Homo sapiens: one gene and its partners. The protein of the gene in region 4 interacts with the protein of the main gene of each other region in a pairwise test. Each region holds a gene or a part of one and is shown on either strand. Other genes may lie near its edges.

The links. Proteins that work in one complex are often made in the same cells at the same time.
Region 1: the proteins of HGF (region 4) and MAP2K5 come close enough for resonance energy transfer, tested with the Homo sapiens proteins (one large-scale study listed by BioGRID).
Region 2: the proteins of HGF (region 4) and MAP2K6 come close enough for resonance energy transfer, tested with the Homo sapiens proteins (one large-scale study listed by BioGRID).
Region 3: the proteins of HGF (region 4) and PDGFRA come close enough for resonance energy transfer, tested with the Homo sapiens proteins (one large-scale study listed by BioGRID).

The regions. Positions count from the first base shown.
Region 1 is NC_000015.10:67,804,703-67,807,614, reverse strand, and holds the end of MAP2K5 (dual specificity mitogen-activated protein kinase kinase 5), read right to left. Parts: intron 970-2,912; coding exon 865-969; 3' UTR 501-864; downstream 1-500. UniProt on the Homo sapiens protein: Acts as a scaffold for the formation of a ternary MAP3K2/MAP3K3-MAP3K5-MAPK7 signaling complex.
Region 2 is NC_000017.11:69,526,197-69,529,696, reverse strand, and holds part of MAP2K6 (dual specificity mitogen-activated protein kinase kinase 6), read right to left. Parts: intron 3,128-3,500; coding exon 2,988-3,127; intron 1-2,987. UniProt on the Homo sapiens protein: Dual specificity protein kinase which acts as an essential component of the MAP kinase signal transduction pathway.
Region 3 is NC_000004.12:54,267,293-54,270,792, reverse strand, and holds part of PDGFRA (platelet-derived growth factor receptor alpha isoform 1 precursor), read right to left. Parts: coding exon 3,333-3,500; intron 3,242-3,332; coding exon 3,052-3,241; intron 161-3,051; coding exon 45-160; intron 1-44. UniProt on the Homo sapiens protein: Tyrosine-protein kinase that acts as a cell-surface receptor for PDGFA, PDGFB and PDGFC and plays an essential role in the regulation of embryonic development, cell proliferation, survival and chemotaxis.
Region 4 is NC_000007.14:81,707,548-81,711,047, forward strand, and holds part of HGF (hepatocyte growth factor isoform 1 preproprotein), read right to left. Parts: intron 2,697-3,500; coding exon 2,600-2,696; intron 1-2,599. UniProt on the Homo sapiens protein: Potent mitogen for mature parenchymal hepatocyte cells, seems to be a hepatotrophic factor, and acts as a growth factor for a broad spectrum of tissues and cell types.

The sequences.
Region 1 (2,912 bases), on a different chromosome or scaffold from region 4:
CTTCAAGTGGAATCCTGAGCCCCTTGGAGCCTCAGCTCCTCACCTGCAAAATGGGGGTAGCCAGGCTTACCTGGCATGTGGCTGAGGGGATTTCCTGAGAGGTGAGAGGTGGCAGGTGTGGGGTCAAGGGCAGTGAGGAGCAGGGGTGGGGCTGGGGTGGAGAAGGGCCTCTCAGAACAGCCCACTCCCTCCTCAGCCACGCAGGTCAGGTGGATGTGTCTGGCAGTCCAGTAAGGAGCTCATGGCGGGGGCCTGAGATCCGGGCCTACTCCTTGCCATGGGACCCATCCCAATGCCTCCGTGCTTCTGTTTCTCATCTGACAGTGGAGCTGGGCTGTGGGCCTCAGCACAACTGCGAGGAGCTAGCAGGAGGCTTGCAGGTGCCTGGGCAGGCAGCAGGCACTGTCACACACATCCCTGCTGAAGTGGAGATCCCACCTGCCCCCAGCCCTGGGGGGGGTCACAGACCCCCTGGACCACACAACTCTTATGGCAGAGGCTGTCACAAAGCATTAATACTTTTATTCCCATCAGTGATGCTGACGGGCCTGACCCTTTATAGAGAAAAACATTAGGAAAACAGAAGTGGGCAGGGACCCTGGGAGCCTCCATTCTCAATGCCCCACCCTTTACCTCTCTGCCAGTGTCAGCGCCTTCAAACCAGAAGGTATGGGGATGGCCTGGTGGGGTGGGCCACACATGGGGCTCCCCAGGCAAGGCCACCTGCTGACAGAGGTGAAGGCGAGGGCAGGGAAGCCAGGGCCCAGCAAAGCTCTTCTGGCGCAGGCAGCATACGGAGAAGGGCGACGGGTGGGTTGTTCTCCTTGGTTACTGGTCCTGGGCTTTCAGTGCCCTGCGGCAGCCTCACGGGGGCCCCTGCTGGCTCCGCCTCTCCTCCAGCGCCCGGCACACCCACATGGACACCACGGCGGCATTTCCATCATTGAACTGCACGATGAACGGGTGGCCCTGCGGGGAAGAGGAGGAGGCTGTGACAGGCAGTCCTCGGACTCCCGCGCTCATTGTACTTTCCAGGGCCTGCCCTCAGCCTGGATCTGATCTCTTTCCCCAGTAACCCTGTGAGGTAACGAGGGAGGCTATCAGCTCCATTTCACGGCCTAGATAATTGAGGCCCAGGGACGAGCAGTGACATACTGGTAGTCAGCACCAAGCGTGTGGAGTGCTGGCTGGCACATCTCAGACTCTGCCACCTCTTCCTGAGGCTCGCACTAGCCTGGAAGGTGCTTAAGGGCGAGGGCCTGTCTTCGCTGCACACTCTGCCTGGCCCTTCCTCTGCCCGGCATCACTCGCACGGCCAGTCAGCCGAGGCCTGGCACTGTGTTGCCAGCTTTCCGGTTCAGTTGGTGCCCAGAGACCAAAGAATCATCTCGTCAGAGGCTATGTCAATCCCTTTTAGCTTTCTCCTTTGTCTACAGCTCTCCTATAAAAAGAAGTCACCACCTGCAATTGGAGGGAAGGCAAACATGTCAGGGGAAGTGGGGAGGGGGAGGAATGTGCTGGGCTGTGCACAGGATCTCTGGGTTCCTGGTGAGAAGTTCCATTGGGGGCTGGACTCTGGAGGGGCCGGCCCTGTTGCCCTGTGGCCTGCCTCTGGTTCTAACCCACTTATCACACAGGCAGACCAGATTCTATTTAGCCAGTTCTCTTCTCTGCTGTCCTGAAGCACCAAGATTTACATCCACAATCTTAGGGCCTCCTGGGAATTCCCAGGGAAGGTCAGAAAAAAGCAGGGACAACCCCAGGGTTACCAGGCCACAGTCAGAGGTGAAAGGAAAAGTGAAAAGCCTTCTTTTTCTTCCTCTTCACCAAGTGGCTTCTTGCCCAGGAACTTACACCAAGTGGCTTCCTCTCCTACCCAAAACTGTGCAGCTTGCATGGTGAGACTCGGGGAGCCATAGCGAGGACAGAGAATGGGGGAGATGAGGGCGCCATGTGCCTGCCCCCAGCTCTTCTCCCTCCCTGTCCAGCGGCCGCTTCCTCGCTCCCCCCAGCTCTCTCCTCCCTCCAGCTTCCTCAGCCCCTCTTGGGCCTGTCCTCCACCTGCACAGGCTGGGCTTTCAGGGTTGCTTTCCCAGCACACCCCAGCCTTGACTGCAGCCCTAGAGAGGCTGCTTAAAGAGCCGCATGGCCTCGCCACGAGCTCATCACAAAGCCAGGAGGGATGTGGACCCTGGCTGTCCCAACCTCAGCGCCTGCAGGGGCTGTCAAGGACCAGGCCTGGGTAGAGCAGGGGACGGCATGGCCCCTCTGGACCACAGGTCAGAACTGTGGGGGACAGGAGAATGCTCAGGCCGCCTCATCCTAGGCTGATGCAGTGCCCGCCCCCAACCTTCTCATTCGAGGTTGGGAAACCTGCCCTGGGGACACCCTGCGTGGGTCTATCTCAGAGGCACACAGAGCACTGTCAGAGCTGCGAGGAGGAGGAGGAAACTCGGCTTCGAAGATGCCAAGGCACTCAACCCCGGGCAGGGACCCGCTGAGACTGGGGTGGAGCTAGGCCTGGAGCCCAGCTGGGTACTTCCCATAATCTGCTCATAGCACTCTGGGAGGCTCCTGACACACCTGCAGGACCCCTAAGGGCACAGGGGCCATGGAGGCCAGGCTGGGTGTGGCCCTGTGGATGGCAGAGGTTTGGTCTGGGGCCTGAGCAGGAGAGGCCCAGGAAGGACTGGATTTTGGCTTCCAAGTGTTCTCCTCCCCATATATATGCCCACCCCACGGCTGCTTTCCCAAATCGCTGCCTAGACAGAGGAAATCCTTCCCAAAGTCCAAGCGTGCACACTTCCTCTCAGGAGGCTCAGGAGGGGCGACCTCGTGCCCTTCTAAAGAACAAAGGGAGAAGCTGTGCTCACGAGTGACGGGCCCCTCCCCCCACGCCCGGGGTAACACAG
Region 2 (3,500 bases), on a different chromosome or scaffold from region 4:
TTACTAAAAATACAAAAAATTAGCCGGGCGTGGTGGCGGGCACCTGTAGTCCCAGCTACTCAGGAGGCTGAGGCAGGAGAATGGCGTGAACCCAGGAGGCGGAGCTTGCAGTGAGCTGAGATCGTGCCACTGCACTCCAGCCTGGGTGGCAGAGCAAAACTCCGTCTCCAAAAAAAAAAAAAAAAAAAAAAATTAAAAACCATTTATTTCTCAAGATGTTCATTTTAAAATATCTCTAAAAAGTTTCAATGCTCTGATTCTTCGGAGAAAATTCCAGTAAGAGAAAAAATACACTGGTGAAAGAAAATTCAAGCAATTGGATGATTTTTTTTAAACAAATTGAAGAAAATAAACCTTCTAAACAGAAACTAGTTGATGGCAGGTCCATAGATCATATGTCTAAACCTGGGGTTATCACCGCAGCTGTACATAAAAATGACTTGAGAACATTTAAAAATATATTAGTATCTTGGCCCCTCCCCAGATCAGTTAAATCAGAGTCTATGAGGATGAGGCCTAGGGGGCAGTGATTTTGAAAGCTCACTAGAGTTTTATAAATGAGCAGCCACAGTTGAGAATCATTGGATTAAACTGGTGATTCACAATGGTAGACTCAGCTTTCTCAAACTTTTCACACCAGCCTCGTTCTTACCAAAATTTCCTAAAGCACCCAGAATCTTGGGAAAAGGGGATAGGTGGGAGAAAGGTAATAGGGAGAATAATTTGAAGAGACTTAGCTAGATAAGATCATTCCCCATTACCACCCCTCTTGAGAACTACTGTTCTGTACTACCCAAGATGCCTCATCTTTTTTTTTTTTTTTTTTTTTTTTTTTTTGAGATGGCGTCTCTCTCTTATCACCCAGGCTGGAGTGCAGTGGTGCAATCTCAGCTCACTGCAACCTCTGCCTTCTAGGTTCAAGCAATTCTCCTGCATCAATCTCCCGAGTAGCTGGGACTACAGGTGTGTGCTACCACACTTGGCTAATTTTTGTATTTTTAGCAGAGATGGGTTTTCACCATGTTGGTCAGGCTGGTCTCGAACTCCTGACCTCAAGTGATCCGCCCACCTTGGCCTCCCAAAGTGCTGGAATTACAGGCGTGAGCCACCACGCCCGGCCCCTCATCCCTTTTTTTGATGTGACCTTAAACATCTGAGGATAAGGCAATAAATAAATAAATAACCAACCAACCAACCATCCACAAAAAACAAGTCTTTGAATCCAGAAGGCAAAATCATGAACCCAGGTCAACCTGGCAGAGGTACTACCACATCCAGCACACTCCCTCAAGGAAAACAGACAGGAAGCAGCCTAGAAGATATATCTTTTAAGAGGCATCCAACAACTATTACACTAGTGCTCGAGGCTCCAGCCCCTCTCTAGTCATCCAGCCAAAAACAAAAACAAACAACTGCAGACCAGCCTCATACATCATCAGGGAAAAGTACCAGAAATGAGAAGGGGCCTAGGGCTAACAAAGAGTCGAAGAGCTCTTAGGTTCACAAGCAACAGACAGTTGCTTTGTTTTATGTTTCTTCCATGTTTCCTGATGAATGCTGTATTCACAGCTTTTTTTTTTTTTTTTTGAGACGAAGTTTTATTCTTGTTGCTCAGGCTGGAGTGCAATGGCGTGATCTCGGCTCACTGCAGCCTCCACTTCCCAGGTTCAAGCGGTTCTCCTGCCTCAGCCTCCCGAGATTACAGCTGTCCACCACCATGCCCAGTTAATTTTTTGTATTTTTAGTAGAGTCAGGTTTTCACCATTTTGGCCAGGCTGGTCTTGAACTCCTGACCTCAGGTGATCCACTCGCCTTGGCCTCCCAAAGTACTGGGATTACAGGCGCGGGTGCCCTGCCTCACAGCACTTCTAAAAACCATGGAGGCTGAGGAATGAAGCCACGGGGAAGATGTTCCTTCAGCTTCCTCAGTACCTCAAACAGCCTTCAGAGCTCCAGGCCCTTCCCCAGCAGTGAGTACTCAGAACGGCTCCCCTCCCAGGGTCACAGCTGGGCCTGCCACCATCTCCGAGCCCCCTTCCTCCTAATTCTCATCTACTTCTCCCGGATGGCCAAATACGCTAACCTGGCTCAGGGGTGTGCTTCACTTCTGGCATCCTGCTTCCAGCATCACTTGCCATGATCATTACTATCAAGCCATGCTAGGCATCATGACCTCTATGCAGATAGAAATTACTGGATTGTCTAGAGAATACTTTCCCCTCTTGCTTTTCTTGACTGCCCTGGCAGTTTTCATGAAAATATAGTTCACCTCATGAGTATGGCTCCCTCCCACTTTCCACCCCAACTTCCTTTGGATTCCCTTCCCAGAACTTCAGCATTGTCTCTTATGGTGGGCAAGTTTCTCCACAGTTAGCAAGTATTCAGTAGCAACCAAGGTTCTACAAGACTTCTGGGGACCTAAGAAACACTCTCAAACTACCCACTATCTTCTCACCGAAAGTAATTCTTTGCCTCTACTTCCTATCCCCAGGCCTCTAGTGGGTCCTATCAGCTTTCTCTTTATGCTTTAATCAACATCAAATTGCTTAAAGCTCACATAAAGGAGTTTCTTGCTTTCGTGACATTGTGAATGATGTTCCTTCTGTTTGGAATATGTTTCCTTTCCTATTTCCCTTTTGTCTGGAAAATTCCTCTCGTGATCGCAGCTCCAGATTTATCTCCTCCAGAAAAGCCTATCCTGAGGTCTTCCCTCTGAGTTCCTTAAATCGCCTATGCCCCTATCTCTATCACTGGACTTGCCACATTATACTATAATTATTCATTTATGAGACTTCTCTACTTGACTTTGGGCTCAGTGAGGGCAGGGAGTGTGATACGGTCATCTTTGCTTCTCCAGCAGAGAGGGCATACTCCACAAATGCTTTCGGAATGAATGTATGCATGATGGATTCAACCCCGATGGAAGAAATTCATGAGAACTCATCTTCTTCTTTCACACTGACACTTGGGAGGTGAGGCTGTCTTACCACTGTGAGGTAAAGTCAACAAACTCTGCAGAGAACTTGTCTGCTGGGAGTTGTGGCGATGGCTCCTCTACCACCTGTTTGAGCTGCTGAAATGGAGTTCCCCATGAATCATAGGGAAATCGAAGGATGGCCAACTCAATCTGGAGAAAAGAAGAAAAAAGGAGACAACAGTTTCAACAGGGCTGCTTTAGGGAATCACCCACGTTTCATTTGTGGATAGACAGCAGGAAACACAAGGCAAAGTTCAAGTATAAGTCCAGGGGTAGGGGGGCAGGAAATAAACTAATAATTTGTTCTCTAGCAATTTTCCCCAAATTCCTAGTGCTAGGGATTTTTAAATATTACTTACTAGACACAGCCACTTAAGCCTATCTAAAATGGGGACCCTCACTAAAACCCACTGTGGCACTTCATAAAAATTGTAAGCCAACCGTATTAAACTTCAGGATGTAAAGCTACGAGGATTTCAAACGTTTGGTCTGACAAGTAATTCCCAGCCTAAGATCTTTCCAG
Region 3 (3,500 bases), on a different chromosome or scaffold from region 4:
CTCATCTACAGAGCTAGCATTATCTTTATACTCCCTTTACATACCTTGAGTTAACAGTTCAAAAGTATAGCTCTTCACAGCATCTTCATTTTGAGCTACAATAGTATAATGGCCACTGTCTTCTTCCTTAGCACGGATCAGCTTTAATTTGCTTCGATACCTTTTAAAAAAAGGATTTTGTTTCAACAAGCAGTAGCTAAGTAAGTTCCAATTGTTTAAACAATTGTACTCTTCAATTTAAGTTTTATTTTTACTGTAAAAAGTAAAGTCATCTTTTTTTCTTGTCCATATCATCTCTTCTGGAATTCTCAATATATAGTGCACACACTGAAGGTCTGGATCATACACACAATTCTTACAAGAGAAAACCAGACATTCAGAGATGAGCAATGGCCATCTCCAAGAGCTATCAGTTCAGCCACGGCCTGACTTCTGAATGAATAAACACAGCCTACCAACTTTTCTTTAAAAAAATAAAAAATAAAAACCTTTGATTTTTACCTTTTTTAAAAAATACTTGCTTCCCCTAAATATCCATCATTTAGGTGGTTCAGCCAAAAAATGGAATATCACTGGAGGATAGAATGAGGACACTTTCTATGTATTTGTATGTAGCGGTCTGCAGGATATGACAGTCCTACTTGCTTGTATTTTGCTTAAAGAAACTCTGGAAGGTTTCATAAGAACCTAATGAAACTAATGAAGATGTTTCCCTGTGGGGAGGAGGGGAGAACTGGGCAGCTGGGGACAGGAGTACAGTGAGGCTTCTTACAATGCATTCTCTTTTTGTTTGATTATTTTTCAAGCACGGGATTCTATCACCTATTAAAAAAAAGTTATAGGCTGGGTGTGATGACTCACACCTGTAATCCCAGCACTTTGGGAGGCCAAGGTAGGTGAATCACTTGAGGTCAGGAGTTCGAGACCAGCCTCACAAACATGGTGAAACCCCCATCTCTACTAAAAATACAAAAAAAAAAAAATTAGCCAGGCATGGTGGCACATGCCTGTAATCCCAGCTACTCAGGAGGCTGAAGCTGAAGAATCGCTTGAACCCAGGAGGCGGAGGTTGCAGTGAGCCGTGATCGTACCGCTGCACTCCAGCCTGGGTGACAGAGCAAGACTCCATCTCAAAAAAAAAAAAAAAAGTTAGAAAAAATATGCCTCTTCAAAAAAAAAAAATATATGTCTCTTCAAACTTTATTAAAGAGAAACTTCCCCAAAAATATTTTACATGGATTATAAATGACATCTGGTTGTGTGTGTGTGTGTGTGTGTGTGTGTGTGTATGTATGTGCATAAATATAGTATGTGCCCATTTGATTGTCCTTTATAAATCATCACAGTTGAAAAAGCAACTGGAATGGAGAAGAAAAGCATTGGTCATGGAGTGAGAAGATCTCGGGTATTATTACAATGCTCCATGCCTCAGTTTCCTTGTGTGTAAAACGTGATAATTGTACACATAGCACAGAGTCATTGTGAGAGTTAATTAAAGGAGATTGTATGTGTGAAAGCATTTCATAGGCTCCAAAACACTTTGCAAATACTGGGGCACTCAGACCTACGAAGACAGCAGGCTGGACCATACTGGGTGTGCTCCAGGACTGGATTTCCTTAAGAGAGTACCCTGGGGCACACTAGGATGCTGATTACCAAATTATCCTCTGCTGTTTGTTCTCTTCACTTCTTCGGCCAAGAAAACCACTGGTTTTCTTGCTCCAGGAAAGCCAGATCCCCCATCCTGGAGTTTTAAGCTCCAGGAAGCCAGATCCCCCATCTACCATGTTCATCTTTGTATTCACTGGCTCATAACAGGAACTAAAAAATCCACGTTGAAGCATCCTTGAATCACTAAAAGGAAAAGGCAGCTTTCCAGAACCACTCAGTTGGCGAGCCTGTCCTGCCACTGCTATGGATTATGGCTTGCAGACAGTGCTCACACACGTGTTGGAGGTGTTAGCTGTACCAGGGTTGTTACCCTATTCCTCTCTGGCTGCACAGCCTCATGGAAGTTCCTCGTGGAAAGCTGCCCTCCTTGTTGTACACCTTCATTTTGTGTCAACAGAAAGCCTTCCAGATTCAGTATCCCACTTCATTTTTCCTTTACTATTCTATAGAGGCTGTAAAATTCCATTTTCTCAGACATTGCTTCTCAATTACACGTGGAATTTAGTTCACAAAGAAGAAAGCAAATCCTGAGGTGAATGGAACTGATGAGAAAGGCTCTGTTCTTCCTCCTGAAGGCTTGAAATACAGGACTGACTTTGTCTTTCTGAGATGATTTCTGACAAAAGTATAGGGCTGGTTAGCTGGGTGCTGTGAGATGTATCTTCTGACTCTTGGGTTCTAATCACAGCTTAAAACCTTAAGAGGCCTCATGATATCATCTGATCCAATTCCTTGCCTTGAAGGACATAAGGTATTGTTTATCCTACATTGTAGATGAGGAAACTGTGGCTGAGGGGTGACTCATTCAAAACTCCACCACCAATTAAGAGATGAGAGCAATCTACCATTCTGATTAAAAGGTAGGGATCCAAGCAACTCACTGCACATCTCTCTCCTGATTAGCCAGGCTCTACTCTTCTTTCCTGTGGAGTCCTCAATTAGGGCAAATGGGTTCCAGATTAAGCCTATGACGTTAACTTTCACGTAAGGTGATGTGATAACTGCCTCATGGGTGTAATCACCATATCTGTCTACTTGCGATATGGATGATGAACATCAGGGAATATATTCAATCTATTCAATCCTGGTGAGTCCAATTTTACTTCCTTTCTTCCACCCTAGCTGAATCCAGTGACCTGTCTTTCCCCAGGGGCCAGAGCTTTTAGTTCTTTCTTCTCATCTTCTCATTAAATACTTACCAGCATACTAATACCACTTTGCAATGTTATCATTAAAGGGATGTGATTTCAAGCATCTCTTAACTCAGATTGTTACATTTTCTAGACTGACTTTGGGTCTGGGTTGTAAGACACACACAAACCTCAGTCCGCCTCTGATGCACACTAAAAAAAGGCATACTTGGGCAGAGAGTTTCTTTACCTTATTTCCTGAATCTTTTCCACATCAGTGGTGATCTCAGTGAGATTTTCAATCAGAGTCAGATTGTTTTTCAGCCAGGATATCCTGGGAGGTGGGTAGGCCCGCACCTCTACAACAAAATGTTTGACTTCATGCAGGTTGACAGCTTCCAACTGGCTGAAGGTGGGTTTGATTTCAATGAAACCTTTCTCTGTACAGGGAAGAGTTTCCATTAAATAATGATTACCACATATGGATCCCGAGCAGCATGGACAACTGACATTTTAGAAAGCGGAATGTACCATGGACAGAAATAGTGACTTTCTTCATTTCTTTGACCTCCCTGGTAGCCTGGCGGGCAGCACATTCGTAATCTCCACTGTCTTTCACCGTGGCCTCGGGGACCGTCAAAGTGTACACCAATTTGATGGATGGGACTTTGATTTCTTCCAGCATTGTGATGCCTTTGC
Region 4 (3,500 bases):
CGTTAGCTTTTTTTTCATAATGTGACTATAAATTTATGAAATCAATTTGACTTTTGTGTAGTCTAAAGTTATTACACATCAATAGCCATCCCGAACACACATATTCGTGTGTATGTGCATCTATCCTTGTGAGGAACGTATGTGCTACAAATATAGGATAATTATAATTTCTTAAAAATGTGAATCTATTTTAAATTCAGTGTTTGCTTATTAAAAATGCAAAGTTGAGTTCTTGTTTGAACCCTGAAAACCATCTAGTGGTAGCAATTTTATTCGTGCACTATTTCCTTCTTCTACTACCATTATGTAGTTTTGATATATTAACATAAAATGTAACTGAATCTGAATAAATTACTTTGTCCAGTATAAGATCAGGAATATAATATTTCATCTCTAAAGTAAAACAATTTTGCAAGGCAAATCATTTAGGAAATTGTAAAATATTTGCAGAGTATGATGAGTACTAGTACATTTTTTTGATGATATCCAAAATCTGTAAATCCATTTTTTTTGGCAGAGACATGGAAAAAGCACAACTTTTCATAATTTACATTTCCAAAGAGTACAGATGTTCAGTGCTTCAGAGGGTAATACTAGAAGATTCCCAGACTGAGACCACAGTTATTTATGGCCTTTACCACACAGGAGGATAAGAATATATATTGACTTTTAATTTCTATCCTTTTCAGTATGAGTTTTGGAAGAATAACTAAGCAGCTGTTGTTGCTAAGAACTTGGATTTAAAAAGGAAAAAAACTAAAAATTTACAGTACTCTAATCTGATGGAAAAATAGCTTCACCTGCTTTTCCAACAATGGAGATGACCAAAGCAGTATCCTTGTGAATTCTCTTACTGGAAAAAATAACTTAGAAGTATTAATATATGTCTTCTTTTATCCTCTGGGGTTATAAGATAAGCAAAGAATCACCAATTAACTCAAATGTGGATTATTGAAAGATTTCTCCTTCCTTCCTTCTTTTTTTTTTTTTTTTTTTTTTTTTTTTGAGACAGAGTCTCGCTCAGTAGCTGGGATTACAGGCATGTGCCACCATGCCCGGCTAATTTTTGTATTTTTAGTAGAGATGGGTTTTACCACGTTGGCCAGGCTGCTCTTGAACTCCTGACCTCAAGTGATACACCTGCCTCAGCCTCCCAAACTGCTGGGATTACAGGTGTGAGCCACCACACCCAGCCTCTTGAAAGATTTTCTATAATTAAGAAAATTAAACACTCCAACAGAATTCTAAAGTCTTTACTAAATCCTCATACTGCACACTCAGCTTTAATATTCTGGTTAGTTTCACAATTCTATTTTAGTACTACACACCTAGGACAGCTATACTACAATTATTGGCATAAATATTTATAAAATCTGATAAGCCATTCCTTGAGAAAAGGGTATACTAAAAAAAGAACTTTAGGCCATCTCCTACAACATTGTGGTCATCTAAAGTCATATATATCAAATTATATAAACTCTTGCTTTCCAATAATTGGTTTATTCATAAAAGGACTTCTGTTTCAAGTTGTCTCTATTCTAATGTCACTGTGATTTAATAATAGTAACAGACATTCTTTTTCTCTACTCTAGGAGGCTAGCGGTAAGGGAACAGGAGGGTATTCTAAAAGAGGGGATATTTAGGTTGAAATTTGAAGGAGAAGGAATTTTCAGGCATAAAACATGGAGGAAGAAAGCCACAGTGTGTTGTGGGAACAACAGCATAAAGGCTTAGAGGAAGAAACGTGAGGTATCTAGAAAACAAGAGACAATGTGGTTCAAATTCAATGTATCTTGGGGTGTGTTGCATGGTAAGGTTCTGATAGAGATAGCCAAAGACATAAATATTTTAGCATTCCAATTAACATACAGAATAATATATGTAGTATATGAAAGTTGTAAGATCAGATTTTAAGTTAACTTATATTTTCAGTATTTAATTCTTATGACATAATTATTAAGCATAATTTTCTCTAACAATATGATTTGCAAAGTGATTTTATGTAGAATATGTCATTGATTCTTAAGAGCATTGAGAAATAGACATGTCAAGAATTTTGTATCCCCACTGATTATTATAATATCAAGACTATTTAACTATTGGCCTTTTTGTAAAGATAAAATGCTCTAGAATTTAAAATTACCATTTTTCATTTGATTGACAAGGAAAAAGTCAGAAATTAAAAACAAATATAAATGTTTTGACATGATCATGCATAAACATATTAGAAAATAAACCCATAATATCCTAGATTGGAAATTTAATAACAAGTATCATAACTACTATGGTAATATTAAGGTTTCAATAGGTCCTCCGTATTTTGCTTAATCGGAACCAAAGTGTCTCTTAGAATCAGGGACATTGCCAACACATATGGGACCTTTGTGAAGATTTAAAAAGGCACTACCTCTGGAGGCACAAATTATAGTCCAGAGCTTACAGTCTGGCAAGCAGATGTGATCAGCTTCCTCTTTTACTGCCTCACCCAGGTGCCCTGTGGAGGGTACAACCTTCAGGACCACATGTGTCCATATTTCTGGGAATAGGACTCTCTTGTACATATTCTGGATATGCATGACTTGCATCTATTAATAATTACCTGTATCTCAAACTAACCATCCATCCTATGTTTGTTCGTGTTGGAATCCCATTTACAACTCGCAATTGTTTCGTTTTGGCACAAGATATTACGGGATCTGAAACAGGACCAAACATAACATTTTTTAAAATAAGAATTTGAAATAATCAGTGCCTCTTAGTTTTCTTAAATGCAATGATAATTACACAAATGTAACTATTCTTATTGTGTCCAAAGAACAGTTTGGTGAAAGAGAAGTTTAATATGACCGCAGCATTATATTAAGTCCTTAACACTTGCCATCTTCATCTAAGAAGTTGAGTAACTCAGAAAAACAAATAAACTCAAAGCAGACAGGATTGCCATGAGAGTGACAATGGCTTTGCTCACAATACACTAAGACCAAGCTCCTCAGGTCTAATCCCTCACCACCCTCAACATAAAATAAACCAAAGTTATTTACAATGGTTATTTCTAATGGTCAGTAGAAATCAATAGATTCAGTGAAAAAAACAAAACCAAGCTTTACTTGGATATTACTTCTGAATTTGTACAGTTAGATTGTAGATTTATTCAATATGTCTTACCAACATTTGATTTATTGAAATCATATCCAAATGATATAATTATTATTTTCAAATCATTATGTCCAAAGACATAATATAAAATTTATTGGAGTAAATGTTTTCCTGACCCTCCTCTGTGCTCCTCGCCTTATCCCCTCTACTTCTGCCCATGGTCTAGAATAGATATCCATTTGCTTCCTGAGCCTGGGGCACAGCAGGTGGTATTCTAAATCAAAAACACTTGAGTAACTTCCTTCAGCTCAAGAGATATGTGAAAATAAAATACAAGTGGCCCCCAACAGATTCTTAAACTGAGGATTAACTGAATATCATAGACTGTGTCATCTTGTGCCCAC